Regions from separate parts of the Homo sapiens genome. Here regions 1, 2, 4, 5, 6 and 7 are each reported to be linked to region 3. Evidence: microRNA targets listed by miRTarBase, many of them from high-throughput screens and not tested one by one. Region 3 holds a microRNA gene; each other region holds the end of a gene's coding sequence.
What was found. The annotated mature microRNA hsa-miR-410-3p reads AAUAUAACACAGAUGGCCUGU and lies in region 3 at 1,425-1,445, shown strand. An mRNA with a match to its seed (bases 2 to 7 or 8) in the 3' UTR can be bound and repressed. Matches are read on the target gene's strand: a 7mer-m8 pairs with bases 2 to 8, a 7mer-A1 pairs with bases 2 to 7 and ends in A, and an 8mer does both.

Region 1: the mRNA of SNX5 is a reported target of hsa-miR-410-3p. Seed matches in the 3' UTR shown: 7mer-A1 at 1,134-1,140.
Region 2: miRTarBase lists MLLT3 as a target of hsa-miR-410-3p. Seed matches in the 3' UTR shown: 8mer at 2,378-2,385 and 7mer-A1 at 3,301-3,307.
Region 4: miRTarBase lists TMCO1 as a target of hsa-miR-410-3p. Seed matches in the 3' UTR shown: 7mer-m8 at 1,537-1,543.
Region 5: miRTarBase lists BLTP1 as a target of hsa-miR-410-3p. Seed matches in the 3' UTR shown: 7mer-A1 at 3,250-3,256 and 7mer-A1 at 3,088-3,094.
Region 6: miRTarBase lists TRIM2 as a target of hsa-miR-410-3p. Seed matches in the 3' UTR shown: 8mer at 3,296-3,303, 7mer-A1 at 2,548-2,554 and 7mer-A1 at 1,136-1,142.
Region 7: miRTarBase lists SLC25A27 as a target of hsa-miR-410-3p. Seed matches in the 3' UTR shown: 7mer-A1 at 2,276-2,282.

The regions. Positions count from the first base shown.
Region 1 is chr20:17,938,904-17,942,970 of GRCh38, reverse strand. It overlaps SNX5 (sorting nexin 5), which reads left to right. Exons shown (of 13, transcript NM_014426.4): 13 at 564-1,371. The coding sequence ends at 614. Among named protein-coding and RNA genes, the nearest start is that of SNORD17, 22 kb to the left of the region's middle. RefSeq lists enhancers at 1,887-2,478, 2,454-2,543, 2,574-2,663, 3,904-4,033, 3,666-4,067.
Region 2 is chr9:20,343,093-20,347,150 of GRCh38, reverse strand. It overlaps MLLT3 (MLLT3 super elongation complex subunit), which reads left to right. Exons shown (of 11, transcript NM_004529.4): 11 at 577-4,058. The coding sequence ends at 708. It overlaps LOC124902129 (a long non-coding RNA gene), which reads right to left and starts at 32. Exons shown (of 4, transcript XR_007061434.1): 1 at 1-32.
Region 3 is chr14:101,064,537-101,068,605 of GRCh38, forward strand. MIR410 (microRNA 410) reads left to right here and starts at 1,376; the gene lies at 1,376-1,455. MIR541 (microRNA 541) reads left to right here; the gene lies at 1-42. It overlaps MIR409 (microRNA 409), which reads left to right and starts at 764; the gene lies at 764-842. MIR412 (microRNA 412) reads left to right here and starts at 911; the gene lies at 911-1,001. It also overlaps MIR369 and MIR656.
Region 4 is chr1:165,724,660-165,728,716 of GRCh38, reverse strand. It overlaps TMCO1 (transmembrane and coiled-coil domains 1), which reads left to right. Exons shown (of 7, transcript NM_019026.6): 7 at 596-1,922. The coding sequence ends at 694. Among named protein-coding and RNA genes, the nearest start is that of ALDH9A1, 28 kb to the right of the region's middle.
Region 5 is chr4:122,361,676-122,365,744 of GRCh38, reverse strand. BLTP1 (bridge-like lipid transfer protein family member 1) reads right to left here. Exons shown (of 88, transcript NM_001384125.1): 88 at 2,993-3,714. The coding sequence ends at 3,498. Among named protein-coding and RNA genes, the nearest start is that of ADAD1, 15 kb to the left of the region's middle.
Region 6 is chr4:153,334,601-153,338,669 of GRCh38, reverse strand. It overlaps TRIM2 (tripartite motif containing 2), which reads right to left. Exons shown (of 12, transcript NM_015271.5): 12 at 1-3,856. The coding sequence ends at 3,704. Among named protein-coding and RNA genes, the nearest start is that of MND1, 8.1 kb to the left of the region's middle.
Region 7 is chr6:46,675,755-46,679,823 of GRCh38, forward strand. It overlaps SLC25A27 (solute carrier family 25 member 27), which reads left to right. Exons shown (of 9, transcript NM_004277.5): 9 at 629-2,436. The coding sequence ends at 700. All of the region lies in intron 1 of TDRD6-AS1 (TDRD6 and SLC25A27 antisense RNA 1), which reads right to left. Among named protein-coding and RNA genes, the nearest start is that of TDRD6, 10 kb to the right of the region's middle.

The DNA of each region.
Region 1 (4,067 bases), not on the chromosome of region 3:
ACTCATTGTTTATTTGTAGTCTTGTTTATAATGTCACCCATGACTAATTTTTAGCAACTTTTTTTTTTTTTTTTTAATAGAGATGGGGTTTCACCATTTTGGCCAGGCTGGACTTGAACCCCTGACCTCAGGTGATCCACCTGCCTTGGCCTCCCAAAGTGCTGGGATTACAGGTGTGAGCTAAAGCTCCCAGCCCTAATTTCTAGCAACTTTTATTCAATCTTTCCAAGGCCCTTGCCTTCATGGAACAACGCACTGATAGTGTCTTAAGAAGTTACAGTAAGCAGGATCACATTTAGGAGCAAGCAGGTGAGGGCAGAGGTGCTGGAGTGAACGTCGGCTCTTTGGCTGGTAGCCTTACCCACTGAGGGAGAGGAGCTGAAACATGAAATGGGGATGCGTGGTACGTTGCAGTTCACCTGGGATTTGATGAAGAGAAGGGCCAGCTTGCTCTGGCTGACTTTAAACCTCCCGTGAAAAGCCGTGTTGGTGTACTTGAGTCATTCCAGGTATATGGCAAGTTTTAATAATTCACTGGTCTGCCTTGCCTTTTTTCCCCACAGAACAATGTCTCCCTTTTGCAGAGCTGTATTGACTTGTTCAAGAATAACTGATATGCCTTCACTCAGAAGAAAAGAAATGAATGTGAAAGAAAGCCAAGCATCACTTGCACTTAAATCATTACCACGGAAGATATATTAGCTTCAACTTTAGTTTAAAATTATGTGAATAAATATTTTGATTTCTACAAATCTTAACATTTAACCATGTTGGTTTAAAAATATTATTGCTTGCTACTTGGACATAACTAATTTTTCCTTGTGCATTTAATACCTCTGGGCAGAATCCAAATACTGGGTTCTCCCGTAGTTCGTCTTTAGTTACTAAGAAAGGGTGTAGGACACATTAGCCTTCTGGAAACAAGTAGAAGCCATCACCTGGCCCATGTCCCTACAAACCCATGATTGTCAGGGAGGTGCCAGTTACAGCAGGTGATTCAGCTACTTGAGGTCGGTAACAGACCTTCCATTCCTCACTGAAGGTGGGGTTTGTGTTTTTGTTTTGCCCTGTTACTCCACTGGTAGTCATCTGGTGTTTGTACTATAACAACAGCAAGAAAATCTCATTTATCTTTATATACTCTTTGCACCTCCTTTTTTTAGTCGAGATATAAATATTTGAGGGGAGAGAAATATCTACAGGTATATATGGAAACAAATAATGTGGTCTGCTTTATAAGATGGCCAGATCTACATTAGGAAAAGTATAAGCCCCCTCCCTAATGGCCGCTGGGGGGTGAGGGCGGTGTGTTGTATGTCTTTGGGTGTTTGTTTTTTTATAAAGCATATAATAAAATAATCGTGCTACTAATGTACGGCCTGTTTTCGTGGAAACTACAACCAGAGTGTGTCCCAGGAGTGCAGGTGGTGCTAGGGTTTGGCTGTGGTTACAGGGTTTTCAGGTTCTGCCCAGAGTCCTGGGGGCGGTCAGGGGAAATTTGTCCTAGTCTTGACATTCTTAAGTACTCCAGGCCTTTTTTAGATGGTCTCTAAATGTGGGTTTGTCTGTTTGCTCCTGACCTGATGGAGGTTTGCATTTTGGCCAGGGCCTTTACCATAGGGCAGTGGTCCCCAGTCTCAGGTCCATGGCTTGTTAGGAAGAGGTGAGCCAGCATTGCCGCCTGAGGTTCGCCTCCTGTCAGATTAGCAGCAGCATTAGATTCTCATAGGAGTGCAAACCCAGTATTGTGAACTGGGCATGCAACAGGTCTAGGTTGTGCGCTCCTTAGGAGAATCAAATGCCTGATGATCTGATGTGGAATGGTTTCATCTGGAAGCCATCCCTTTCCACACCCCACCTTGTCCATGGAAAAATTGTCTTCCACGAAACCACTCCCTGGTGCCAATGACATGTCTTCAGGAGTTGTGTGTCTATTCCTTTGTTGATGACTGAGCACTTAGGGTGGTAATCTCCTTTACCTTTCTAATAAGTAATTCATGGTAAGACCATGAGACTAAAAACATTTTACCCACCACATTTAGCATCTGTTACAGCCAACTGGTATGAGGGTTGCAGAACTGATTTCAATACATACAGGGAGCATGTTTCTTAACATTTATCTGGTCTTCGTGTCTTGCCTCCCCAGCTATTTACAGGCGGCCACAGTGCCTTCTACCTTCACAGTACATACTTGGGAAACGGTGCACAAAATGAGTGAATTTAAACTTGGCAGTTGTAACTTCAGTCTGGGCTCCTAACCAAATCTGTCCTTCCTACCCATCTCCCCCATAATGTCCACAGCAGCCACCCACACACGCCCAGCATTCTGTTAGTGTAGAGCCAGCACTCCTGCAGTCAGGTTCCTGGGCCGCAGTGCTTGAGCACCAGTGTGATCAGCCCTGATTGGTGGAGCTCTGGCTGTTGGCCTCGGGGCCTTGGTGCATTTTCTTGAGACTAAACCTTGTCAAATGGACAGCAGAGGCATGAATCTTGAGTGCTGGGTCTGCTGCTCACCAAGTGATCTAGGCTGCCTCTCTCAGCTGACTGATCTGTGAGCTGGAGTCAGCACTTCAGAGGCCCCTCAAATTAGTTTTATGCCAGCAATCTCTAATACAGCCTTCATGGATGGTATGATTGTAGATGTTTTACCTGCTGTATTTGTTCCAAGGCTTTTCATTAAATTGCACCTGACAGTCACTTAGGAAATTTGAGGCACTCTGGGTCAGGGATGTAGTCACCTTTCCCCTTCTGTCAGTCACCTAGTGAGTTGCTACCTTTACCTGTATGTGAGGGTGCATTCATAGTGGTCTGGGGTGGGGGGATGGGTTTAGATGCTGACTGCGACCTGTGTGGTGTGCTGAGACCTGGAAAGGCAGGCAGGCACTTGGCAGCAGGAGGAACAGCATCAGGTGGGAATCCACAGCTATCTTGCTGGAGTGCAGGAGAGCATAGGTCCCACATTGAGAAATGGGAATTTGGGTCACTTCAGGGTGATGTGTGGAGAGGCTTTTGCTGTGTGCTTGTATGGTTCTGAGAACTAGTGATCCTCCAGGAAAACCCATGTGGGTGCACAATTCATAGGGAACCCTTGAAGGTTTCTAGAAATGGGAATGGGAAGTGGTTTCAGATGGGCTGCCTTAAGGCATCCAGGCCAAAAAGGCTGTGACTTGCCCAAGGCACGGCTGAGAAAGTTGCCTCGTGGCACACGCAAAACTGCACAGTTCACATGTCATACGATTTCATTAAAAGCTAGGATCCAGCCTGAGAAACAGCGCAACCGTGTCTACAAAAAATGCTAACCTACAGTGGTGGCATACACCTGGAGGGCTGAGGTGGTGGGAGGACTGCTTGTGCCCAGGAGTTCAAGGCTGTAGTAAGTTAAAATCACACCACTGTACTCCAGACTAGACAACAGGGACAACTGCCATCCACCTCCCCTCTCCCCGCCCTCCCCCACTCTGAAAAGCAAAATTAGGAGATTGTCACGAGGAAGGAAAGCACACCCCTGGTCTGTGAAGCCGTTGAGGTCATGTCAGACCACTGGGGTCGTTTGTGGTGACAGAGCACAAGCATTTGGCCAGTTCACCACCCAACACATTCACTTGTGCCATCTCAGGGTTTAGGGGTCTGTTTTCTGAACATTTGCCTTGCGCACCTTTTCTTTGTGAGGTTTCTTTGTGGTAATTCCCAGGCTCAGCTCTGTGAAGGGCGATTTCCGTTTGGAAGGAAACCTTGCACCATCCGCTTTCTGCCTGTAGGCGGCAGGGGCGACCCAGCACAGCCACCTGCCCACCCACAGCTGAGCAGGAGCCTGGTATCCCCGCAGAGCTGCTCAGATTATCAGCTTATAGCTAAGGTAGCAGGAAGAGAAATGTCAGGCTACTTGAGAGTTAAGTAGTTCTGAATGGTGTTTTCCCAGACCAGCAGTCCCCTCCAGGATTCCTGCGGGCTTCAGGTTTCTGGTTACCCAAGACACAACCTCCATTGCTGAGGCCATGCTGTTCGAGAACTCCCCATCTGAGCCTGGTGTCAAAACAGTTGTGATGTTGATGGGGGTTCACAGCCAG
Region 2 (4,058 bases), not on the chromosome of region 3:
CTCTGGTCACTATCTGTTAAGGGGGTGGGATTGTAGACAGTTTCTTTCTTTTCCTTTTTTTTTTTTTTTTTTTTTGGGAGTTCCTGTATTTTCCAAATTATTAACAATTATATAATGATAAAGGAAAATGATTTTATATAGGGGTGTGTGTGTGTATGTGTTTGTACTTAAGTAAAAGTAGTTTTGTTATTTCTCGGCTGGATTTTTCTTATGTCTATTAAGTATAATCACTGTCTATTGAGTCAGTAACTAATTTTTAAAGGAGTCTTGAAATGCTATCTCCCCCTAACTGCTCACTCACAGTTAAATATTCTGTTCATGACTTGAAAGCAGACATCAGTTTAAAGGGTATGAAAAGCAAGACAGGTTCTCACTGGGAATTTCTAAGGCTTAATATACCTTTGACTTATCAAGTTGACTGAGACAGTTTAATGCTATTCATGGTATGGGACCTTGTTGCTATAAATACGAATATTTATCACTTGATTCCATATTTGATCGCCCCTCCATTACTCTCTCTTTGCCTTTTGATGTTTGCTGCGTATTGCCCAAACTTTCTCTTCTTCACTCCTCTAGATCGTGAACCTTATAGAAGAAACTGGACACTTTCATATCACAAACACAACATTTGATTTTGATCTTTGCTCGCTGGACAAAACCACAGTCCGTAAACTACAGAGTTACCTGGAAACATCTGGAACATCCTGAGGATATAACAACTGGATGCATCAAGAACTATTGTGTTTTTTTTTTTTGGTTTTTTTTTTTTTTGGTTGTGATTTTTTGTTCTTGTTGTTTATATGAAAACACTCAAAATGATGCAACCAAAAGGGAAAAAATAAAAATCAAACAACCTTCAGCTTTATTTTTCTTTAAAGCCAGTCATCATCTCTTGATAAAGGAGAGGTTAAAGCAAACCAGCCTCAGCGGACCACTCTTCTCTCCAAGGAAATCCCCGGGAAGAGTTAGCCTGGATAGCCTTGAAAACAAACAAATCAAACACAACACAAGAAAACTCAAAGAATGTGTATGGTATCATGTATCTCTCTGTGGTGGTTCATTCCACAGGACGAATGCATATTCAACACACTGCCTTATTACATAACTGATCTATTTATTATCGCATACAGATATTCTAAGTCGTTGAGGGAATGACACCATCAGACATTATAAGTACTTGGTCCCGTGGATGCTCTTTCAATGCAGCACCCTTGCCATCCCAAGCCCAGTGACCTTACTCGTATACCGTGCCACTTTCCACCAACTTTTTCCAAGTCCTTTAACTCGTTGCAGTCTGTATTTTCCACCTTTTGTTTTTCCAGTTCCAGGACACAGATTATCAACTGGGGGGACCAAATAGCCACCTTGATTTTCTTCTTTGTGGTCTTTTTCCTGAAAGTTGGGGCCCAGTCCTTGGCTGTATCCATGTAATGATCTTGGACCATGGTAGAAAATGCACCAAATAGGATCATATGAATTGCTGTCTAGCCTTAGTCAATAAACTTGTAGGACTTTTAAACAAAAGTGTACCTGTAAATGTCCTGAATCCAGCATTGTTGAGCTGTCATCAACATTCTTGTGTCTGTTTTACTGTTACAATATTAGGTGAATATGGAAGTAAAGGCATTCCACAGGATCATCATTTAAAAAAAAAGAATTCTGGTCCTGTTTTCTAAAAAAAAAAACTGTTGTAGAAATTCTTAATTTGGATCTATTTATTAGTCAGAGTTTCAGCTTTCTTCAGCTGCCAGTGTGTTACTCATCTTTATCCTAAAAATCTGGAATCAGAGATTTTTGTTTGTTCACATATGATTCTCTTAGACACTTTTATATTTGAAAAAATTAAAATCTTTCTTTGGGGAAAAATTCTTGGTTATTCTGCCATAACAGATTATGTATTAACTTGTAGATTCAGTGGTTCAATACCTGTTTAGTTGCTTGCTAATATTTCCAGAAGGATTTCTTGTATTGGTGAAAGACGGTTGGGGATGGGGGGATTTTTTTGTTCTTGTTGTACCCTTGTTTTGAAACTAGAAATCTGTCCTGTGGCATGCAAAAGAAAGCAAATTATTTTTAAAAGAAAAAAACCAAAGTACTTTTGGTGTCATTATTCCATCTTCTCCATAAGTGGAGAAATGAAAAGTAAGAACAGCTCATCTTCAAAGTTTTTACTAGAAATTCAGCCGAAAAGAAGAGAAATGAAGAAATACTTCTGGATCCAAAGGTTCGTCACTGGATCAGCCTTAAGAAAGTCTCTATGTGTGCTAATAGACCAGTATCTCCCTTGTTTGTTCCCATGCCAGATGCTGTCTTTTCATACAGAGATTAACTAGTGTCTGTACAGAAAATGGTCTTTCCAGACCCATTCTTTTGGGCAGTTATATAAATGCAGATTGATAATGGAGTTATTTCTGCATTTTAAAAAGGGGATTTTTTACACTGTTTCTTTCTATCCAAAGAAACTATTTTTCCTTTAAAAAATTATAATACAGCCATGCTCCTTGTAAATTATTTCTCTGAAGCGTCCTCCCAGAGGACAAGTGTACTTTCTCAATAATGTTATGATTCTTAATGACGATTGGCATGAACCGTACTTGAAGCATTTGTTGTATTGTCCACTTCTTGATGTGCAGAGAAACTTTGAGTCATTTTGGACATTAGGTGATTGATGAATTGTGTGGTTTCAGTTGCGTTTTGTTTTTAACTTTATAGCTGGAAGGGGAGGGTAATGTTTATATGGAAATGTTGCAAATTTTTAAAATATTTTAAAATTTCTAACTGCTAACACATATTCTGATCAAGCCAGAAGTTTATGTGATTTAATATATCTGTGTAGTTTAACTAGAAACGTATATATGTAGTTTGGGCCATTTTTATTTCTGTAACTAAATTGTGGGGCAAAAAATATGATTTGCCAATGTAAAAATTTTTTCCTTTAAGTTACTAACCAAGAAGCTAGGTAAGATAAGAAATGACCAAACAAAAATAATGATAAGAAGGACAGCTATTATATGATAAACTTTAGACTTGAAAATTAGGTAATAAAGTTAATTTCTTCAGAATATCCTAAAATGTAAGTTTGTAAATTGATAAAGTTCAGAAAAACTTATCCATCTTCTACTCATCAAGATAGCAAAGTAAGTTTTTCACAAAATTAAGACTGAGAGTTACGTTATTTTTTTTGAAGTGGTAATCTTGCTCTCATCTAATTTTTAAATACAGAAATAAAAAGATCCCTTTGAATTAATTTCAAGTAGTTTTAATACCTCTCTTAAAGTAACCCCTTCAGTTCTGTCACATTTATATACACCCAACTTTGAAGCCTATTAAGAATATCTTTGACATGTGAGTACCCTAACAGTGGCTCTGGTTTCTTAAGCACAAAGGGAAAATGGCAGGGTTTAATTTCTTTGGTGTACATATATAAATAGATGTTTCAAATAAAATTAATTGGGTAAATGTGAATATGGTTTGAACCAGCCAGAGTATGATAAACTTTTAAAAAATTTTTCCTCAGTGATCAGCCAGGGGAAAAAATATATGTACAGAGCTCCTGCCCCTCTGCCCCCTTATAACTTAGCTTTTGCCTCTGGTTTTGCAGCAGGATGTGTGTTGGTGGGTTTGGGGTTCCTTCTGTCTTCGGATGTAACAGTCATGTTAGCAACAATATTTTGCAGTTACTTCACCATCCTCAGCATAATCTGCCTCTCTCTCAATCTTAATACAGACAAATAGGTATGTCTATAAATGCGTTCATATAGTGTCAAGGTAGGGAAGACTATAAAAACTTCAGATCAGGAAAAAAATATCTCTTAAGAGAGTGTCTTAAACATTTTAAATTGCTAGGCAATTTAAATCTCTCTAATCTGAATATTCACCTTTTGGTGGAAAGAGCCAGTAATATTGGTTTTCTTCCACTAAAAAGTTTCTTCAAAATTTTTTTTTTTTTTTTTTTTTTTTTTTTTTTGCCGATATCTTTTACAGGCCCACCTAATCTTTAAAAAAAAGAGAAGAAACAATTTTAGGCCTGTATAACATCCTATTTACTACTTCAAGCT
Region 3 (4,069 bases):
CACAGAATGGGTGGTGGGCACAGAATCTGGACTCTGCTTGTGGCATCCATCGTCTGGCCCGATGCTTGCTGGCTGCCCGCTCCAGGAGGCACCTTCTGGGTGTTCTCTGAGTCTGGGGAAGGTTGGGTTCTGAGGTCAGGGCTGCCCTGACCCTTGTGAAGAGAAGACATCTGTGACTCACCTGCTTTCTTCTGCTGCATTTATCCCCCCAGTCCCTTATTTTGAATGTCTCACTTGCTTTATGAGGCTAATCAGATGGTCAGCCAGCTGTTGATAACTGTGAAGTTACTCTTTGAGGGATCCTGGGGTGATGCCTCTGTGGGCTGGAGATGGTGCTGGTGAGACCGCAGGTCTGGGGTCAGCGTTGTGCCCCGTTGAGCTCCCGCCAAAGGAATCCTCTGCTGGGAGGGAGGCTCTGTGCTTGTGCAGGGGTCCCTACAGGGTCACCCCCTCTCAGGGTCTGGGAATGAAAAGCGGGTGCGAGCAGGGTTTCATTTTCATCTTTAGCAAGGTGCCCAAGGAAGGTTGCCGTCTTTTCAGTATAAGATCCTACCTGGGTCTTGCACTCAACTTCTGGGAAGAGTCTCTAGATTCATTCTGGAAGGGGTTGGAATCGTTGGACTTGGTGATTGGGAACGTCCTTGGAGAGTGTGAGGCTCTGGGCTCTGAATGCCCAGACCTTGTGCTGCCCTTGGGGGAGGGTCTTCTGCAAGCACAGCCGCCTGCAAGCATTCACCTTAGTCCGAGCATCTGAGCCTCTCCATGGTACTCGGGGAGAGGTTACCCGAGCAACTTTGCATCTGGACGACGAATGTTGCTCGGTGAACCCCTTTTCGGTATCAAATTCCACCAGGGAGGCCGTCTTGGAGGCTGGGGCACCTCGGGGAAGGACGCCGGCATCAGCACCATTCTGGGGTACGGGGATGGATGGTCGACCAGTTGGAAAGTAATTGTTTCTAATGTACTTCACCTGGTCCACTAGCCGTCCGTATCCGCTGCAGCCTGTGGGGCCTGCGGGCCGGGGAGCCGATCGCGCTTCAGCTCAGCGCCTTTCCTGGTACTTGAAGGGAGATCGACCGTGTTATATTCGCTTTATTGACTTCGAATAATACATGGTTGATCTTTTCTCAGTATCAAATCTCACCTTGGAGGACCCGTTGGAGATGAAGCCCTTTTGAGGGTAGGAGCAGGACGGGTGCTTTGGAGTCGCTGCCTCAGTGGGGCCTGGTCACCGAGAGTGGGCCGGGCAGGGGTCTCTTTCCTGTCTCTGTGTCTTCTCACCTTTGATGTCCCATCCGTCCTCAGGACTGCTTCCCGGGGGCAGCGCTGGCACCACGGGACGCGGCAGCCACGTTCTTGAGCCGATGGCACTCTGGGTACCTGAGAAGAGGTTGTCTGTGATGAGTTCGCTTTTATTAATGACGAATATAACACAGATGGCCTGTTTTCAGTACCGCTACCGCCCGGTGGTGTGCGGGCGCCACGCCTGAGGCGGGACTTTCCAGGGTACGTGAATGCATGGGCTGGTGTGACATTTGTCATCCTTTCCCCTGACCCCCGCCATTGAATCATTTTGGGAGAGCTTTCGGGGGGCCATGTGGACTTTGGGGAAGATGCTAGGGTTGTGCACTGTGGTGGGGGGCGGTCATGAAGCTGATGAGCAATGGTGACGGGGCTCAGTCTGTTTTTCATGGCCAGTGTCATCGAGGCAGAGGACACGGGGGAGCTAGTCCCGCTGGAAGGCATCCTGCTGGAAGGCCACCCACCCCTCGCCAGGATGTTGGGGGCGGCTGCATGCATTCCCTGCACCTGGGCTGCCTTCTGCTCATCTCAGTGCTGTGAGACCCTGGGTGGGAGCTGGTGCCTTGGGTGGCCGTGTGCGTGTGCTGCTCCTTGTGGTGCCTGAGGAGAGGTGGCCTGTGTTGCATTCACAGAAATCATGACACACAAGACACGAGCGGCCTCTCTTCAGTATCAGATCCCACCTGCATGATTCCTGCACCTGCTGATGTCGGGGAGGTCCGGTTGCGCGCCCTGTGGGCCCCCAGAGGCATGGCTGGTGGCCGAGCACGCGCTTGACTTCCACCTGCAGCCCTGTGCTGGCCTCCATCCTGGAGGCGGGTGGGTGGCAGGGCCCTTCCCTGTGGAAGAAGCCTCCTCCCTGGAGTCAGTGCTGCTCAGTGGTACCTGAAATAGGTTGCCTGTGAGGTGTTCACTTTCTATATGATGAATATTATACAGTCAACCTCTTTCCGATATCGAATCCCACCTTGGATGCCTTCCTCTTTGCTGTCAACTCCAGGCAGCAGCTGGCTCTGCGCTGGTTGACCCTGTGGACTTTGTGTAGGACCTGTGTCACTTGGCCTGTTAATTTTCCAGCTCCACTCTGTTCTGGGGGGCTTTGGAAGTGTGACAGAATGGCATCCCCAATTCCAGTGTCAGCGGGAGCACCCGCCATGCCCTTGCTTCCGGTTGGCACATCCCCCAGGCTGGGCTGGCTCTCAGCTACCCGATGCTTATGTCATATTTGCACCCCTGGCCTGCCCAGACTACAGGAAGATGACCAGAGGCCTGTTTGCAGCTGACCTGGAGACTTAGTGACTCCAGAACATGCTGCCCATGCCCAGGGTCCAGGGCTGAAGGCAAGGAGCACCTCAGGAGTGACCCCAAAGAATGAGCTAAGGCTGTCCTTTATCACTCATTGTTGATCAGTGAGCTCCTGGGCTCGGGAGATCTTCCTGAGCTGGGCTCCCGTCATCCCCTAGTTGAGACGTCGCTGCCTTGGAAGTCACAGCCTGTGCCTGCCCTCCCCCTTGTCCTCCTCCTCGGGACCGCTCCTCTCCATGCCTAGCATGGGAGTGGGGATCCCTGGCACCATCCCTCTGGGCTGCCTGCTCCCACTCTCCCTCAGCACCCCTCTTCCCCAGCCCCTGGGCCACAGCCCTGCTGGAGAGGCCGCCCCACAGGCTAGGTCCCTCCAGCCTGTGGCACTTGGGTCTCCCTCCAGTGCCCCTCCCTCTGCCAGGGAGAGCATTTCCAAGTGCAGAGTCCAGCTGTTTAACTCCGCTGCCCAGGGCACCTCTGCAGGCCCCTTCCCTTGGGCTTGGTACCAAAATGATCCGAGGACCCCCCAGGCCCTCAGAGTGGCAGCCCCCCTCTTCTTTTGGAGCCACAGCCTATCCCCCACGTGTTTTCATCCTTCATTCTGGCCTTGCACATGCCCCTCCTTCCGGAGCTGGGTCCTGGGCCGCCCTGCTCTGCCCTCGGCTGCCTCCTGTCCAGGCTCTGGCCCTTCCTTCCTTAAAGGCCCACATCCTTTGCATTTTCCTTTCCCAGGGGTTCACAATTCCCAAGGGGATGGAATGGCTCTTGTTCAGCAAGGTCATCCCTGATAACCCTATAAAAGCAGCTCCCCTTGCCTCTTCCCTATCACATTCTACCAGTTGCCCCGTTACTGTTTTCTTCCTAGCTTACAGTTCTCTGAAATTGCCTAATGTTAATGTCTACCTTCTTTGTGCCCTAGACTGTGAGATTTCTCATTGGCAGAAATTTCTCTCTCTCTCTCTCTCTCTCTCTCTCTCTCTCTCTCTCTCTCATCCCCTGCTGTGTTCAGTAGCAGAACAGTGAGTGTTTGTTGATTGACTAATGGAGTCCCCAAAGGCAGGGACCGGATCAGATGAATTCCCAGGCAGGTGCTGGGCACAAAGCAGGCAGTCAATAAGATGTGGTGATGGAGTACATGAATATGTTAATTGATTTTTAGAAATTCTTCCCATTTGTTCAAAGCTGTTTGGTTTTCTAGCTTTTTCTGCCCTTCCAGGATGAGGCTGAGATTAGCTGCAGGAGGCACGAGTCAGTTGGGTCTGGGTTCTCTCTTCCACTTGTCGGGGGGTGGGGGCACCAAAGCCCCAGAGGAAGTGACAGGCCCTGTGTTCCCCTGCAGATGCCGACTGATCGCGCCCCCGCCCCTCCAGCAAACGCCCCAGCGCTGAGAGCCAAATGCTCTGGGGAACTCCATCTGCAACGGGCTGGAGCGTGGTGTTAGGGCTCATATTTTATGCATGGGGCT
Region 4 (4,057 bases), not on the chromosome of region 3:
ATATGCTTCTTGTTAAAAAAATTATCTCCTTTTATGATTCTCTACTCGAAAAAAATCAACCACTTTCATTAGTAGACCAAGGTCTCATCAGGTAAGGAAGGCTTTTACTGTTCTATGATTTTCATTACATTGTAGGCCTTTTTAAAAAATAACATAGTGATTGCCAGGTGCGGTGACTCCCTCCTGTAATCCCAGCACTTTGGGAGGCCGAGGTGGGCAGATCATGAGGTCAGGAGATCGAGACCATCCTGGCTAACATGATGAAACCCTGTCTCTACTAAATATACAGAAAATTAGCCGGGTGTGGTGGCGGGCACCTGTAGTCCCAGCTACTCGGGAGGCTGAGGCAGGAGAATGACGTGAACCTGGGAGGCAGAGCTTGCAGTGAGCCAAGATTGCTCCACTGCACTCCAGCCTGGGTGACAGAGCGAGACTCCATCTCAAAAAAAAAAAAAAGTGATAATCATCCTATTGCAGGTCATAATGGTTCCTTTAATCTATATGAGTATGAGTTCCCTTTGCCTGAGAGCTACATAAAACACATCTTCTGTATATTTGATATTAAAACCCAATCCTTACTGTGCTTTCTTCACAGAACATTCAGAAGATTCTCGGCCTTGCCCCTTCACGAGCCGCCACCAAGCAGGCAGGTGGATTTCTTGGCCCACCACCTCCTTCTGGGAAGTTCTCTTGAACTCAAGAACTCTTTATTTTCTATCATTCTTTCTAGACACACACACATCAGACTGGCAACTGTTTTGTAGCAAGAGCCATAGGTAGCCTTACTACTTGGGCCTCTTTCTAGTTTTGAATTATTTCTAAGCCTTTTGGGTATGATTAGAGTGAAAATGGCAGCCAGCAAACTTGATAGTGCTTTTGGTCCTAGATGATTTTTATCAAATAAGTGGATTGATTAGTTAAGTTCAGGTAATGTTTATGTAATGAAAAACAAATAGCATCCTTCTTGTTTCATTTACATAAGTATTTTCTGTGGGACCGACTCTCAAGGCACTGTGTATGCCCTGCAAGTTGGCTGTCTATGAGCATTTAGAGATTTAGAAGAAAAATTTAGTTTGTTTAACCCTTGTAACTGTTTGTTTTGTTGTTGTTTTTTTTTCAAGCCAAATACATGACATAAGATCAATAAAGAGGCCAAATTTTTAGCTGTTTTATGTACAAGGAGAGATCTGTTTCATTTTGTTTTGCCGTATTTCTAGATATAAGTTTTAGCATGGGCCAGGAAGGACTAAAATAAAAGTTTTTAAGGTACTGTACTTTTTGCCATACTTGACTCATATACTCAAAATACAGAGTTGTCTTGGTGTAGGAATTGGAAAGCAAGAGTGGAAAGGAACGTAATAACTCGTTGGAGTTTAAAAATGAGGGTCTTGGCAAGTAACACTGATGTCTGAAAAAAAATTAAATATAAATAAATAAATAAAAATGAGGGTCCTCAGCTGTTCTCTTCATATCCTATTACAGTCTCTCAGATTCTTGTGGGGGCACTCTTAGATCTCCCTTGGAGACAAGGTTATAGTTATATGTTGTTAATCTCGCAGAGCTTCCTTTTAGTCACAATAGCCTTCATTTTCTGCCATGCCCCTTCATAAGGGAGAAGGATGTTTGTACCATGATCCTCCCCGCATAATCTATGGAATTAGGAGTCCTGTGTGGAGTCTTATCAATAAATATGCACATTCATCAAATGTCTACTTAAATGTGAGTATTCTACCAGTGAGAAAAAACACATAATTTTCAAGGTAATCATTGTTAAACCAACAGCAAACTTCTTTCTTATCAGCACCATAAAGTCCAGAAGACAGTAGAAAAGTATCTTCAAAGTGCTGAGGAAAATAAGTATCAACTTAGAATTTTATGTACAATATTGGAGGCAAAATAAAGACATGTTTAGACATACAAAACTAAGAGAGTTGAATTATTAAAGGTTATATTCCAAGGACAAAAAAGAGGATCTGCCCAAGGTGAAGGTATGGCATACAAGAAACAATGGTCAACAGAGAAATAAAATATATGGATGAATATATGGATAAATTTGAGTGTTTTATGGATTATCTAATTTAAGGATTATCCCAAGACAGCCCTACAAGGTAATTACTGTTCTTACCTTCATTTAACAGATGAGGAAACTGGGGCAGGGGAGGTTAGTAACTTGCTCTGCATCACAGAGCTATTGAGTGGCAGTCAGGATTTGAATTCAACCAGTGTAAAGCCTAATAGTCCAGGCTGTCAAGCTCTATATTACAGCCTCCTCATGGGTATGTGGTGATTCTCTTCTCATCCCATCTCCTCAACTAGAGTGTGTGAGCTCTCTAAAGTTGGACTTTGTCTTTTTTTTTGTTCTCCTTATTACAAAGTAGTCAACGTGGGTGGAAACACAGCAGGAGCTCAATAAAAGCAGATGAAAGGGAACAGAAGTCCCTATTCTGAGACTAGTTTTATCAGAAGGATGTCTGATAATGGATGGTAATGACTTTTAATGGTCTTTTCTCCATATCATTGACCACTCTAAGCAAAATAATAATTCGAATGATAATGAAGAAAATGATGCCCATGATAACAATAATGACAAATATGAAATGGCTAAAATAAAACATGAAACCATCCTCAAAATTCTGCCATCACCTTTTTAAAGTGAGAATATATAGCACACTCTATCACTCATACCCTGAGGCTTTGAAGTTGGTGCTTTCTAATCAGACTTCTTATGGACCAGGTTTTCATATACAAATTATGTTTCCATGGTAAGGAATAAATAAGAGGGAGAAGTTAAAAAGGAGAGATTACATCTATTCACCCTATTCATTAAAATTTTTTTAAATTTTTTTCCAAATATGTTCTGCTTATGTATATTCACTCTATTCTTAAAAGCACAATAACAAAGATATATTACAGAGGAAATAAAACTATCACAAGAATTAAATTCAAGGAGTTATTAAGGGCTACTGCAGCCTCACAATTAGTTTTTTAAAATTTCTTGTCCTGAAGAAATTTCAAGACTAGTTATTTGGATGACACTCTAGGTCCACAGCATCACCAGATCATTGGAGATGACATTTCAAGACAGGCCTCTGAACATCTCTCATAACACATAATTTGGTTATTTTCCCTATGTAAGATGGATTGTCTCCTGTCTAGGGAAGAAAAACAGCCATTACTAATATCTGCATTAGTCTACTCAGGTTGCAATCATAATATGCTAAAGTAGTAAACTTTTAAAAATGACAGTAAACCTGAGTTTATTAACAGGTTACATTCTAAAAGCTAAGCTAGTTTGGAAATTGGAAAGCAAATGTGTGTAGATATTCATATGTCCTTGACCAGACTGGGCCTTTCTCTTCCCAGGTAAGTCATTCTCTCCAATGGGGCCAGTTACTTAAAATTACATCAGACAATTGATAGAGCTTCTAGATCCCCCTTCTAAAACAAAAGCATTTTGCCACAAACTAGGATGGAGTAGGTTTTTTTCAGACTATTTATACTTATTTTATGTATTTCAATACTGCCCTTTAAGTAAAAGTACTATATACTTTCTCTTTTTTTAGATTAATTCTGCTTAAGTCAGTCTTTTAATTTATTCTAGTTTGAGTTTTTAAAAAATTTTAGAATGAAAAATCTCAAAAATATACTATTATGTATATACACTATTTTATATATATATATATATATATATAGAGAGAGAGAGAGAGAGAGAGAGAGAGAGAGAGAGAGAAAGAGAGAATAAAGAACACCTAGGTAACCCATCCTCCACCTTCGACAATTATCAGCTCCTAGCTAATTTGTGTCATCTGTAACCCCACCTGCTTCTGCCCTTTCTGTATTATTTTGAAGCAAATCTTATCATTTATCTGTAAATATTTCAGGACTTTAAAAAATATGTGTAATCTGAATACCATTTTTACACCTAAGAAAATGGACAATTCCTTAATATAATGTGTTGTCTATAGATGTCAAAAATTTTTGCAGTTTTTTGGAATCAGGAACCAAGTAAGGTACTGAATATTGCAGTTAGCTGATACACATCCTAAATTTCTTCAAT
Region 5 (4,069 bases), not on the chromosome of region 3:
TCTAACAGTCAGGCCTCTCAGCTGCAGGTCTGTTAGAGTTTGCTGGAGGTCCACCCAGACCCTGTTTGCCTGTGTATCACCAGTGGAGGCTGCAGAACAGCACATATTGCTGCCTGATCCTTCCTCTAGAACGTTCATCCTAGGGGGGCACCCGCCAGATGCCAGCCGGAGCTCTCCTGTATAAGGTGTCTGTCAGCCCCTACTGGGAGGTGTCTCCCAGTCAGGCTACACGGGGGTCAGGGACCCACTTAAGGAGGCAGTCTGTCCGTTATCAGAGCTCGAACGCTGTGCTGGGAGAACCGCTACTCTCTTCAGAGCTGTCAGGCAGGGACATTTAAAGTCTGTTGAAGGTGTGCCCACAGCTGCCCCTTCCCCTGAGTGCTCTGTCCCAGGGAGATGGGGGATTTATCTATAAGTCCCCGACTGGGGCTGCTGCCTTTTGTTCAGAGATGTCCTGCCCACAGAGGTAGAATCTAGAGAGGCAGCCTTGCTGAGCTGCGGTGGGCTCCGCCCAGTTCATACTTCCTGGAGGCTTTGTTTACACTGTCAGCATAAAACTGCCTACTCAAGCCTCAGCAATGGCCGAGCCCCTCCCCCCACCAAGCTGTAGCATCCCCGGTCGATCTCAGACTGCTATGCTAGAATTGAGAATTTCAAGCCAATGGATCTTAGCTTGCTGGCCTCTGTGGGCATGGGACTCACCGAGCCAGGCACCAGAGGGAATCTCCTGGTCTTCCGGTTGCGAAGACTGTGGAAAAAGTGCAGTATTGGGGCAGGAGTGTACCATTCCCCCAAGTACAGTCACTCGCAGCTTCCCTTGGCTAGGAACGGGAAATCCCCTCAACCCTTGCGCTTCCCGGGTGAGGCGACTCCCGACCCTGCTTCGGTTTGCCCTCCGTGGGCTGTACCCACTGTCCAACCATTCCCAATGAGATGAACCAGGTACCTCAGTTGGAAATGCAGAAGTCACCCTCTTCTGTGTCAGTCTCGCTGGGAGCTGCAGACTGGAGCTGTTCCTATTGGGCTATGTTGCCAGAAATACCCTAGAAATTCTTACAGCAATTGATGGAACATTTGAATCTAGTAAATCAAACCTAATAATTAAAAATTTGAGCTTTGTGTATTTTAATTTTTTTCATTTTGAATAATTGTTACTATATTTTACAAGATTATTGATTTATATCATGTTCAACTTTTTCTAAAAAAGGGTTCTTCACTATAGACAGTTTGCAAATCACAGATCTCTAGTAAGCCTAGAAGTACAATATTTGCCGATAGGAAAGCAAAATCCTTTATGTAATTTTTTTTTACATGTTATTGAAATTTTACAAGTTATCTGGATGCACCGTGTGATTTACTGGAATAGAACAAGGTACGTGATACTCAAAAAATAACTATAATAGACCACTTGGAAGCTTTGTAATCTAAGCGGCTGACCATGTTTTTTAATTTAGGAATAAATCTTAGAGATCATCTTTTTTTTCATGGTTGCATACTATGCTACTGAATGGATGTCACTTTTAATTAACCTGTCTTACACTGATGAACATTTGAATTGTTTCCAGCCATTTATTACAAAGAATACTGCAACATACTTCCACAATACTGCACTGTTGCAGAATACCGCAAATATACATGCTTGTATAATTATTTCACACAGGGAAGTATTGTATGTATGTCCAGTAAAAATTATATGCCTTTATTATTTTGACAGCTGTTACTTAATTGTCCTTCATGGGAGTTGTACCAATTTACATTCTCATCAGTAGTGCACAGATGTGCTAGTTTTCTCATAGCTTTGTCCAACAGTCATAGAAATTTTAAGTAGTTACAGATTTGTCCTTTTGCTTTTTATAACGTTATCAGTTAGTGCCAGAAATAGGGTAAGTTTATACTTGTTATTTTATATGCACCAATGTTAAGAGATTTGGGGGTCAGATTCAGAGATCAGATAGATGACAGCTATGATGGCCTAGCAGAAAGAATACAAAATTAGGACTGTTAAAACACTAGGGTTTTGGTTGTGTGACTAAGTTGCTTTGTGACATTAGACAGCAAATCTTAATTCCCCTACTAACATTTACTAGATCTACACCCTTGGCTAAGTACCCCAGCTCTTCTGGAGTTTTTTGTTGTTTAATCTGTTAGAGGTAAAACTGTCTTATCTACCTAAATCTAAGAGTCTGCACTAGAGGCTTTCTTTAGGTGTTTTCTAACTCTAGCTCTTCAATTCTACTGTTTACCCAATCTTTAAACTGGCCATACTGACTTGGCTAATTTCCAACCTGAGGTAATTATAGCTACCTTTGAGTATTATTTTAGATCTTGCCATTTTAAATTTTTTATACTTAATGTGTGTACATAATACACATATGTATCTGTAATATATAACATACATTATATATAACTTCATACACACAAAAAATACAAACACGTAAGGAATATAGTATAATAAAAATTACTTGCTGTGAATTTCCCATTAGCTTAAGAAAGAACAATACCTAATATTTCTCGTAGGTATTATTAATATACCTCTTGTGTGCCTGTCCCTAATTTTTTATAAACATAGTCATCTTCCTGTGTTCTTGGGGGATTGGTTCCAGAACATCCGTAGATGCTCAAGTTCCTCATGTAAAATTGTGTAGTGTTTGAATATAACTTACGCACATTCTCCTGGATACTCTTTAAAAATCATCTGTAGATTATTTACAATACCTAATAAAATGCCTACACATCACTTCATTCATGTGGACTTAATGTACTTGGTAAATACAAAAGTTTTGCTTTTTGGAACTTGGGTGGAATATTTTTTTTTTCCTGAATGTTTGTTTTCGATCTGCAGTTCATTGAATCCACAGAGGTAGAACCTATGGCCCAACTCTAATATAGGTATAAATCATCATCTTCTATGAAAGCATCTGATCAGCTGTGACACAGCATGGGCATCTATTAATTATAAAAAGGAGAAAAAGATTGAAAAACTACTACAGACTTAAACCATTACTGTGACTTTATTATAATAGTTAACAATATTTTAGTGGTATACAATCATATCACAATTACTCAAGCTATATACAAACAGGTATTTATATAAGTCTACATTTAAAAAAGAAAAAGCAATTAATGACCTCCCCAAAATCACATTATCATCAACAAGATTTTTTTCTAAAAGTTACGGCCAATCCAATAACAAAAAAATTCACAGTTATTCTGCAGACATTTTAAAGATGCAGGAATTGTATTGCACATTATATAATTATAAACCATAACAAGCAGTTATATATTTTAATCTAGTTTTTCACAAAATTTACATTATCATGCAATACTTCACTGTACACAGAATGATGGAACTAGAACAGGTTAACTTACAAACTTTTAATTATAGCCACAAATTTAGAATTATTTTAAAGTTATATTTCAAATTATTATACTAAAAAAACACTCCAGTGTAATAAAACAGACACAATCATAATTTGTTCACAGATCAAATTACTTTTTTAGTGTTCTTCTTTGTCTTTGCCTTTCTTTTCCTTTTCATCCTGTAGTGCAGTACCGAGCTTTTTGATAAGAACTGACAGAACCTTGTCCAGTGGATCCATGACTCCTCTTTGAAGCCATTTAGGAATAGTAGTCCTAGCATGATGAAAGCCCAATTTTTGAAGAATATAATCAACACCTACTGGATCAATCTTTCTTCCAGTCCAAGAAATTAATCTAAAATAAAAATTACAGTTATTATTAAGGAGTGTAATGCCCTAAAGCATGGTTCTAATGGTAGGAAAAGAACATCACTAAGCCTCTATAATATACTCAAGACAAAATATTTTCAGTAGGTACATTTGTATAAATGAGCCCATAATTCCTGGATTCACCATAATAATAGCATTCAAAAAATAATATATGTATGATTATAAATCTCTTTGACAACCTAAACACAGCAATAGTGTTTACTATATTTCATCCTGAATATTTTAGGCCTGTTATACAGTTATCTTAAACATATAAAAGGACATCTGGTTAATTTTAGTAGATTTCATAAGCATGTGGCATAATGGGAGAAAAAGGCTAA
Region 6 (4,069 bases), not on the chromosome of region 3:
GCATCATGATTTGTAGCTTACTGTCATTGAAAACAAAACAAATAATTCTTTATTTATACCAAACAAATCTTTGATGGGCACTTAGTTTCCTTTATGGCAATACTAGATTTCTAGTTATCAAAAATATTAAAGTAATTATAAAGTTTAAAACCCTGCAACATTTACAGAAACCAACAGTATTACCACTTTCACTTTTAAGCTAAATTAGATAATGTTTGCATGAAATAGCTTTCATTTTTTCCTACCTGGAGATGTCTTGTTTTTAAATTATTAAATTGTCAAACTAAAAATACTCCTCCCTTTTCAGAAGCTAGTGAATAGAGAGGGTACTATAGAGTCTACAAAAAGATTTTTCCCATTTGAAGTAATCTGCAGATTACCTAATGTTTATTTACTACTTCCTCCAATTAACTAAGTAGGTATTACCAAAGCATTTCTGTTAACCCGTCAGTGCTAAGGATTCACAGATACTTGCTAGTGTACTGCTATTCCAGTTAACTCCATGTTAGGACATACCCTGTATATTTAGTAGTGGAAGCAAGTGTGTTCTAGCTGCATGGATCTGGAGTATTTATTTGCTTCAAATCTAGTCACAGTAAATTAAAATAAGGAAACTTAGGGACTTGTTTAGTTCTGGAGACTAAAGTTTGATCAAAATACTAAGTACCATTAAAAAAAATGGCAAACAGTCATAAAGGACTTGTAGTCATGTATTTCTGGATGGTCAAGTGACTCTCTGCCTCCCCATGTCCAGCAAGGGGGGCTGGGGGGTCTGTACTGGGAGGAAATGCGTCGTCACTGACCTTGAAATCCCAACCGGCAATATTTTGCCTTACGTGCCCAGGGGAAATTTGAATGAGTAATTTTTCAGTGCTACTTATCATGAATGTATGACAGGTTCTATACACTTGACAAAGAGAAATCAAACAATAATGGTAGCCCAGAAAAAAGCCACTTATTTTAATATCCTTCTCAGTTTACCAGAAACCATTTTCCATAGAATGTGACAAAATTTCATTTAAATTTTGTCTACTTGTATCATATCAGCAGCACTTTCCCCCAAAAATATGCTTACCAAGAAATACAGTAAATGCACATATGTATCCAAGTGTGAAATGTTATCTATACTTTAACATATATAATCACATATTTTTTGGAAAAAATATAGTGTTTCCTGGAGTGCTCATAGCATGTGTTTTAGCAACACATAGTGGAGCAGGTCTGAATCAAACTATTCTTTCATTCCAGTTTGTGCCAATATTGACATGTAAAAAAAATTAGCTTTGTATTCAGTCTACTATTGAGATATCTAGCCTGATAGGATATGATATGATGGCTGGTTAGATTGTAAGTTAATTTCTAAGTTCACAAATATAATTGAAATGTTGTGCAAAAAAACTCTTTAAATCAACTAGTTTTAAGATCAACAGCCTGGGACAGAAAGAATCTAAATAAAAAGCCATTTTTACTTGTGAAAATAAACTAAAATTAATGTAACCAATTTGAAAAGTTTCTTTTAAACAATCTAGACAAGAGTCTAGCCTGTCTTTTGTGCAGAACGTTAGTACGTGGCAAAATGAAATTCCCACCCCAGAATGTCAGCTCTGAGGGGGCAGCGATTTTTTACCTGTTTTGTCCATCACTGTATTTCCAGTGCCTAAAAGAGTACTTGGTACCTAGTAGGTACTCAGTAAATATGAATGTTTAAATTCAAAGATGTATCTCACTGATGTTAGGAAACAGTGTCTTCATTTAACATTCTAAAAAGTTATTGAATTTTATAGCTTTATCACGGACAGGCTCAAGTATTTTTTAAAACTCTACCTAACTAAAAAAATATTAAACCTAAATGTAAATCTTCCTGGAAAAACCTTTTTTCAGAGGTTGATTTGGGCATAATAAATTTAACAGACAATTTGAAGTAGCTAGATTTCCCTTCTAAATTTTAAGAAGTCCTATATAGAGAATGACTGAATTATAAATTAATAAGCAATAAACATCACATTCATATAATTATACATAGGGGAAATGTTTTCTTATAGTACAGTTCTAAGGTGCTTTCAGTGAAGAAGACCCCAAAGTCACTATCAAAAATGTCAAACATGACATCCTATTTGGTAGAACTGAGTAGAAAATTAAACAGTGGAAATAGACCACAGCTTATTTTACAGTACCAATGACAGATGAACGATTGACTAAATTGTTCTTAACATTTCTCAAAATGCATTTATATTTAAATTAAATGTAACTCAAGTTCAACTTTTATTTTGACCTGTTGGGTTTTTTATGTGTGTGTGTGGTTTTTTTTTTGTTTTTTTTTTTGAAAGCACAGAAGGCCATTTTCTGACTAAAAGCCACCACCGTCATTCTTGGAAAATGGCAAAAATTAAATCTGCTTTAGGGCTTGCTCCACTAGGACGGCTTTAAACTGCTTAGTAAAGGAATGTGCTGAAGAGTGGCTGGACGAAGCTTCTGTCTTTCAGAGTGCTGCCTATTTCAATACACCAAAGATTCAGCTATATATATGTGTGTGTGTATATATATATATATATAATACATTCTATCTTACCCTAATCATGTATACATAGTCCCTTGACACCTCTACTATTCATTAAACAATGATAAATAACCATAACATGCCCTTACCTGTAATGCTTTCAAGATAACACAACTTTGGTAACACTTGCTTTCTAAGGGGGAATCATTAATCAATCACATGCCTTTGGTTGACACCATCAGTCCTCCAAAGGGCTACTTATGGCTCTCTGTCCTAGGATACTGGTGTCCTACTACATGTGCTGACATTTGCAGGAGGTAAAGCTTTCGCTTTCAGGAAGTCGAAGAGAAGAGACACGTGTGAAAACATGGTACATAAAACATGACTAACTTTCTTGATTACATTCCAGTGCAATGATCTGGAGTTAACGGGGCAGTTTGTTTCCCAAAAGGTAGCATTACTTTTGTAATATGCTTTTCAAGGCATTAGAAATTTCAGGTTTCCCTGAAGAAGTACTTTGTTTGCTGATACAAGGTGAGCCAAAGGGGTGGTGAAAAGAACACACAAAAAAGGATCTTTGTCTAACCCAGAAAGGTTGAGAAATTTGCACTGATACTTAAGTTCTGAACTCCAGAGGGCTGCTAATCAGAGCTGGGATCATTTTGCAAGACAGCCTTACTTTTTCCAAAGTAATTTATATTTAGTTGTTGATAACCAAAAAAATGTCACAAGAGTAATACCTACTGTAAAAGTGAGGTTAGAAGATTCCCTGGGTCTTGTGACCTAGGTTAAATGAAGTATATAACTACAATAGATTTTGTTTTTGTTTTGCTTTTGGAAGTTCTGTGCAAAAGCTACCATTCACAGGATTAACGAATACCTTTACATATGCTAGTTTTTTAAGTGTCTGTTTGATTTGCAAAATTAGTTTAGCTACATAAATCCTGTCCCTTAAGCCATAGTTCACAGATGTAAAACTGCAGTTTTTATAGATTCAGTAGAAGAGTTTTTTTTAACCCTAAAGGTGAAATACAGAAATTGGATAAGTCATTTTTAAGGAAATTGTTACATTCAGAAATAACCTTGGAAAGTTCACCAATGATTCCTTCTGGCATAAAAACTCTAGTCATAATCTGGTCCCGCATTGAGAAATCCATTCCAGTTTATAGTGCAAGACCATGGAAGCGGGTATCCACCTGCCCACCATTACTGTAAGTATCGATAGACTTTGAAACAGTGATTTCCAGAGTCTGCAACCACAACATGACCATCTGAAGTTAGGGCCAGGCCTTGGGGGCCATAGAGTGGGTCAGCAGATGTGTTAATGTAGGACAAAAATGATCCACTCCCATCAAAAACCTGTAAACAAATAGGAAGTCAGAATGTTATAGGAGAAGTTATAGTAATATGCTGAACATGGGTTAGAAAACTCTTGATGCTAATGTTTTTCTGTTTCTTTCTTTCTTTTTGACAGGGTCTCACTCTGACACCCAGGCTGGTGTGCCGTGGTGTGAAGACAGCTTACTGTAACCTTTAATTCGTAGGCTCAAGCGATTCTCCTGATTCAGCCTC
Region 7 (4,069 bases), not on the chromosome of region 3:
TTCTTTTATAATTCCTTTAGATGTAGCCATACCTTCATTCAAGTTAAAGACAAGCCTTTCTGAACTGGAAGGGCTTTTTTCTATTTAATGTGAATTTTTATATAAATGTTGTGAGACATCAGGTGTTGGTTTTATGACCTAAATCTCCATGGATAATCTTTCACCTTCCTCACTTTCAAGTTCTAAAGTGACTTATTTTTATGCTCCATATACAAACTAGATATAGAAAAGCCTGCCTAGAATTCAGGCATCTTGAGTCCCAGCCCTTTAGCCAGTAATGGTTCAATAAAAAGAACTCTGAGAATGGAAAACAGAAGCCTGTGGTCTAGCTCTACAACATGTCAACAGGCATTTGACTGCTAAGCTTCAGTGGTCTCATCTGAAAATCAGGGATATTAATATCTTTCCTTTCTATTGTAAGATGTTGTTTAGAGAAATCTGTGATATATAAGACATAAAAAATGCTTTGTAAATTATAAAGTCCTTTACAAAGGTGAAATACCAAAATATTTGTTTTCAGCCTAAGTGGTTGCAAAATGACTTTGTCATTCAAATATATGTATGCACATATGTAGACTATTTATAATTGCTTTGAAATATGCACTAACTTCTTTGGTTAATCTTTCAGACCCCTTGGTCAATGGTGTTCTGGCTTACTTATGAAAAAATCAGAGAGATGAGTGGAGTCAGTCCATTTTAAACCCCTAAAGATGCAACCCTTAAAGATACAGTGTTCAGTATTATTGAAATATGGGCATCTGCAACACATACCCCCTATTATTTCTACCTCTTTAGGAAGACACCTATTCCACAGAGACTGATTTATAGGGGGCAGCACTTTATTTTTTTCTGGAAACCCAAGTTCTCTTTGACTCCTCTTTTTGTCCAAAAGTGATCTGGTCGGATCTCACAAGGCCATCCAATGAGACCCCGCACAGCATTTTCTAAAGAAGAATCGAAGCCTGACCACTTTCACCTTGGGCAAGAAGGTTTGGCCTTTGAGTTGCTATTCTATGCTGAAGAGCCTGCTTAGAGGAGGAGTACCAGGAGGGAGCCAGCATTTCAGATCTGAAGTAGACGATAGGAATGTGGAAGAACACATACATAGTGCTTAAGAAATACATTTAACCTGTTATGTCAGTATTTATCAATGAAGTTTGATAATTCACTTTTCTGTCATTGTTAAAGCGTACATACTGTAAATTAAAGGGAGGTGAATGGAAATTAATGAATAAACATTTTGAGTTTCCCTAGTGTTGAAGGAAGGTGTACTTTTTCTTGTCAGAAAGATAAAAAAAATCAAGTTGAGATGATGTTTGAATTTCAAGAAAAGAGGCTGCTTTCTGTCAGTGCCCTCTCATTAGATCTGTGTTAATTAGTTAGCACTCCACTGCACATGCTAATGACTTCCTCTGACAGCCACACACCGAATCTTGATGAAAAAAGAGAAGAGCATTTGCCTTGTTACATAGTCTGTTACAAGCCAGATATGTTGCTAGCTCTCAAGAGTTGTAATATATTAAGAACTACAACTTATTTGATTAAAACTCAGCTGTATAGATCCTTTTATAAAGCACCTTTTGTTAAACATCAGCCTTTCATTGGTATTTTAAAAGCAAGGCAGATAGATATGAAGTCAGCCAACTCTGACATGCGTCCTTTCTTATCTCCCTTACCTGACACTAGGGGCTCTAGAGAGGCAGAGAGAGCACTCACAAATCACACTAAAACTGCCAGCGGCCTGACTCTTACTCAGTTTAGCAAAAATTCTTGCCTAAAAAGTGATAAGTAAAAATCTGTTTATGGTATACAGTTATGTCTCGAATCTTTGAATCAAATCCATGTTCTTATTTTAGAAAGGTAAGAGTTCTTCAAATTCAGCTACATACCACCGGCTCTCCCAACCTCAGACGGTGGGCATTTCTGGATGGATGGCTGCGGTTATGGATAAAGGCTGTAACTGTTAACACAGAAAAACATGAAAAGCTCAGGCCCAAGAAAGGCCTTGGAGCCAGCCAAACAGAATTTGTTCTAATGGACATGGATGATGTTGAACAGAAAAAAGTTTACAAGTGCTTTGTGGTTGCACTAATGTATACTCACTGCCATTTTAAGAGGGGGAAGTACATTTTAAAATATATTTGAATGTCATGTACTGATATGCAGTAGCTTATTGTTTTTCTAGTTGCAGAGAATGTGAAGTTTAATCTCTTAAAATATTTAGATGGTCTACTTTTTCATTGAATTTGTCAATATGTAATTGCGTTGTAAAATATTATATATATATATATATATATATATATATATATATGCTTAACTTCCCAAGTGTTCTGCATTGAACCACTTAGGGAAAATTTTGTTTGTTTTTATGTTTTGTAATTTTTAAAATTAAGTAAAGACTGGATCAAAATAATTGCATCCAACCTGGACCGTGAACAATTGATTTAGCTTTATTCTTTGTGGGGTCGGGGAGTTGGGATGAAAACACTGCTTACGCACTGACATCATTCCTTGGGATCTGGATCAACACGAATTTCAGGAACTTTTAACCTGAAATGACTCCTTGGGATTATCTAATTTAACCTTCCCATTTCACATGTTAGTAAACTGAGATTCAGAGAAGTAGAGTTGTTTATGCTCATGAGTGACTTAGTAGCAGAGCCAGGATAAAAACACAGTTCTCCTAATATGATTATTATGACTGAGAGTTATTGTTCACTAATTAGGTACCAAGGAAGGGTCTTATGTCATGGTCACAACCCAGTAGAGTCTTCTAAAAACAGATTTTTCCTTATGGCATTTTTATGTCTCATACATTTTAGATGAATCTGAATTGTCTCTAGCATACATTTTAGAATGGAGTCACCATGCTTTAGCTTGAACATGAAGACCTTCTATAACCTAACCAAATCCAGTATACCCAATACTTATCCAATCACATTCATAATTTTCTGGTGAAATCATATCTACTGATTATTTTGGAACATTGCTTATTTTTGCCAACTTGGAATCATCTTGTTTTCCAAAATAATCCTCAGTAAATAAAAAGGATTAAAAATTTCAGTAATTTTTGTGTCCATACTCACAGACTTAAGAATTCCAAACTCACTTACTTATAGTACTACTCTATGTGGTATTTCTCTATTTTTTCTCCTCTCAAATGATTTTTTTCTTACTGAAAATGCATATACTTATTTTTAATTATGTAGTTTTTTATATGTATAAATGAATTAGTATATATAATTATAGACTAAATTTGCCATATATGATATAAATTATATATGAATTAATTTATATATAATTAAAGGGATAACATTTATTAAGTTTGCTTTCAATATGGAATAACATGTCTTTTTCAAGTGCTCCCAATACTATTTGATTGTAAGCTACTAGTGGGTAGGTATACATCTTCCATTTTTATATAAATCTCTGCTCTCTTTAGTAGCATTTCTTTGCTATTAAGAAAAAATGATTACAGCTACGTATAACATGAATCAATTAATTTTATCTTTATTGTTTTAAGAATCTGTGACTGGCCAGGCATGGTTGCTCATGCCTGTAATCCCAGCATTTCGGGAGACCGAGGTGGGCGGATCACGAAGTCAGGAGATCGAGACCATCCTGGCTAACATGATGAAACCCGTCTCTACTAAAAATACAAAAAATTAGCGGGGCGTGGTGGCGGGCGCCTGTAGTCCCAGCTACTAGGGAGGCTGAGGCAGGAGAATGGCGTGAACCCAGGAGGCGGAGCTTGCAGTGAGCCGAGATCATGCCACTGCACTCCAGCCTGGGTGACAGAGTGAGACTCCATCTCAAAAAAAAAAAAAAAAAGAATCTGTGACTATCATATGAGTCTGCAATTTCTCTTTTACTTTGCTAATAAAAAAATAAAAATTCAGGACAATATAAATATGAAAGGATTTGTTATTCAGTCATCTTCAAATTTTCAAGCACATTTATTTACAGTTGTTATAATTACATATATTTTTTCTATTAATGAAAACAAATTCCTTCAGGACTTTCCTAGAAAAAATGGTCAATTTTAATACTTGATGGTTAAAACAATTTC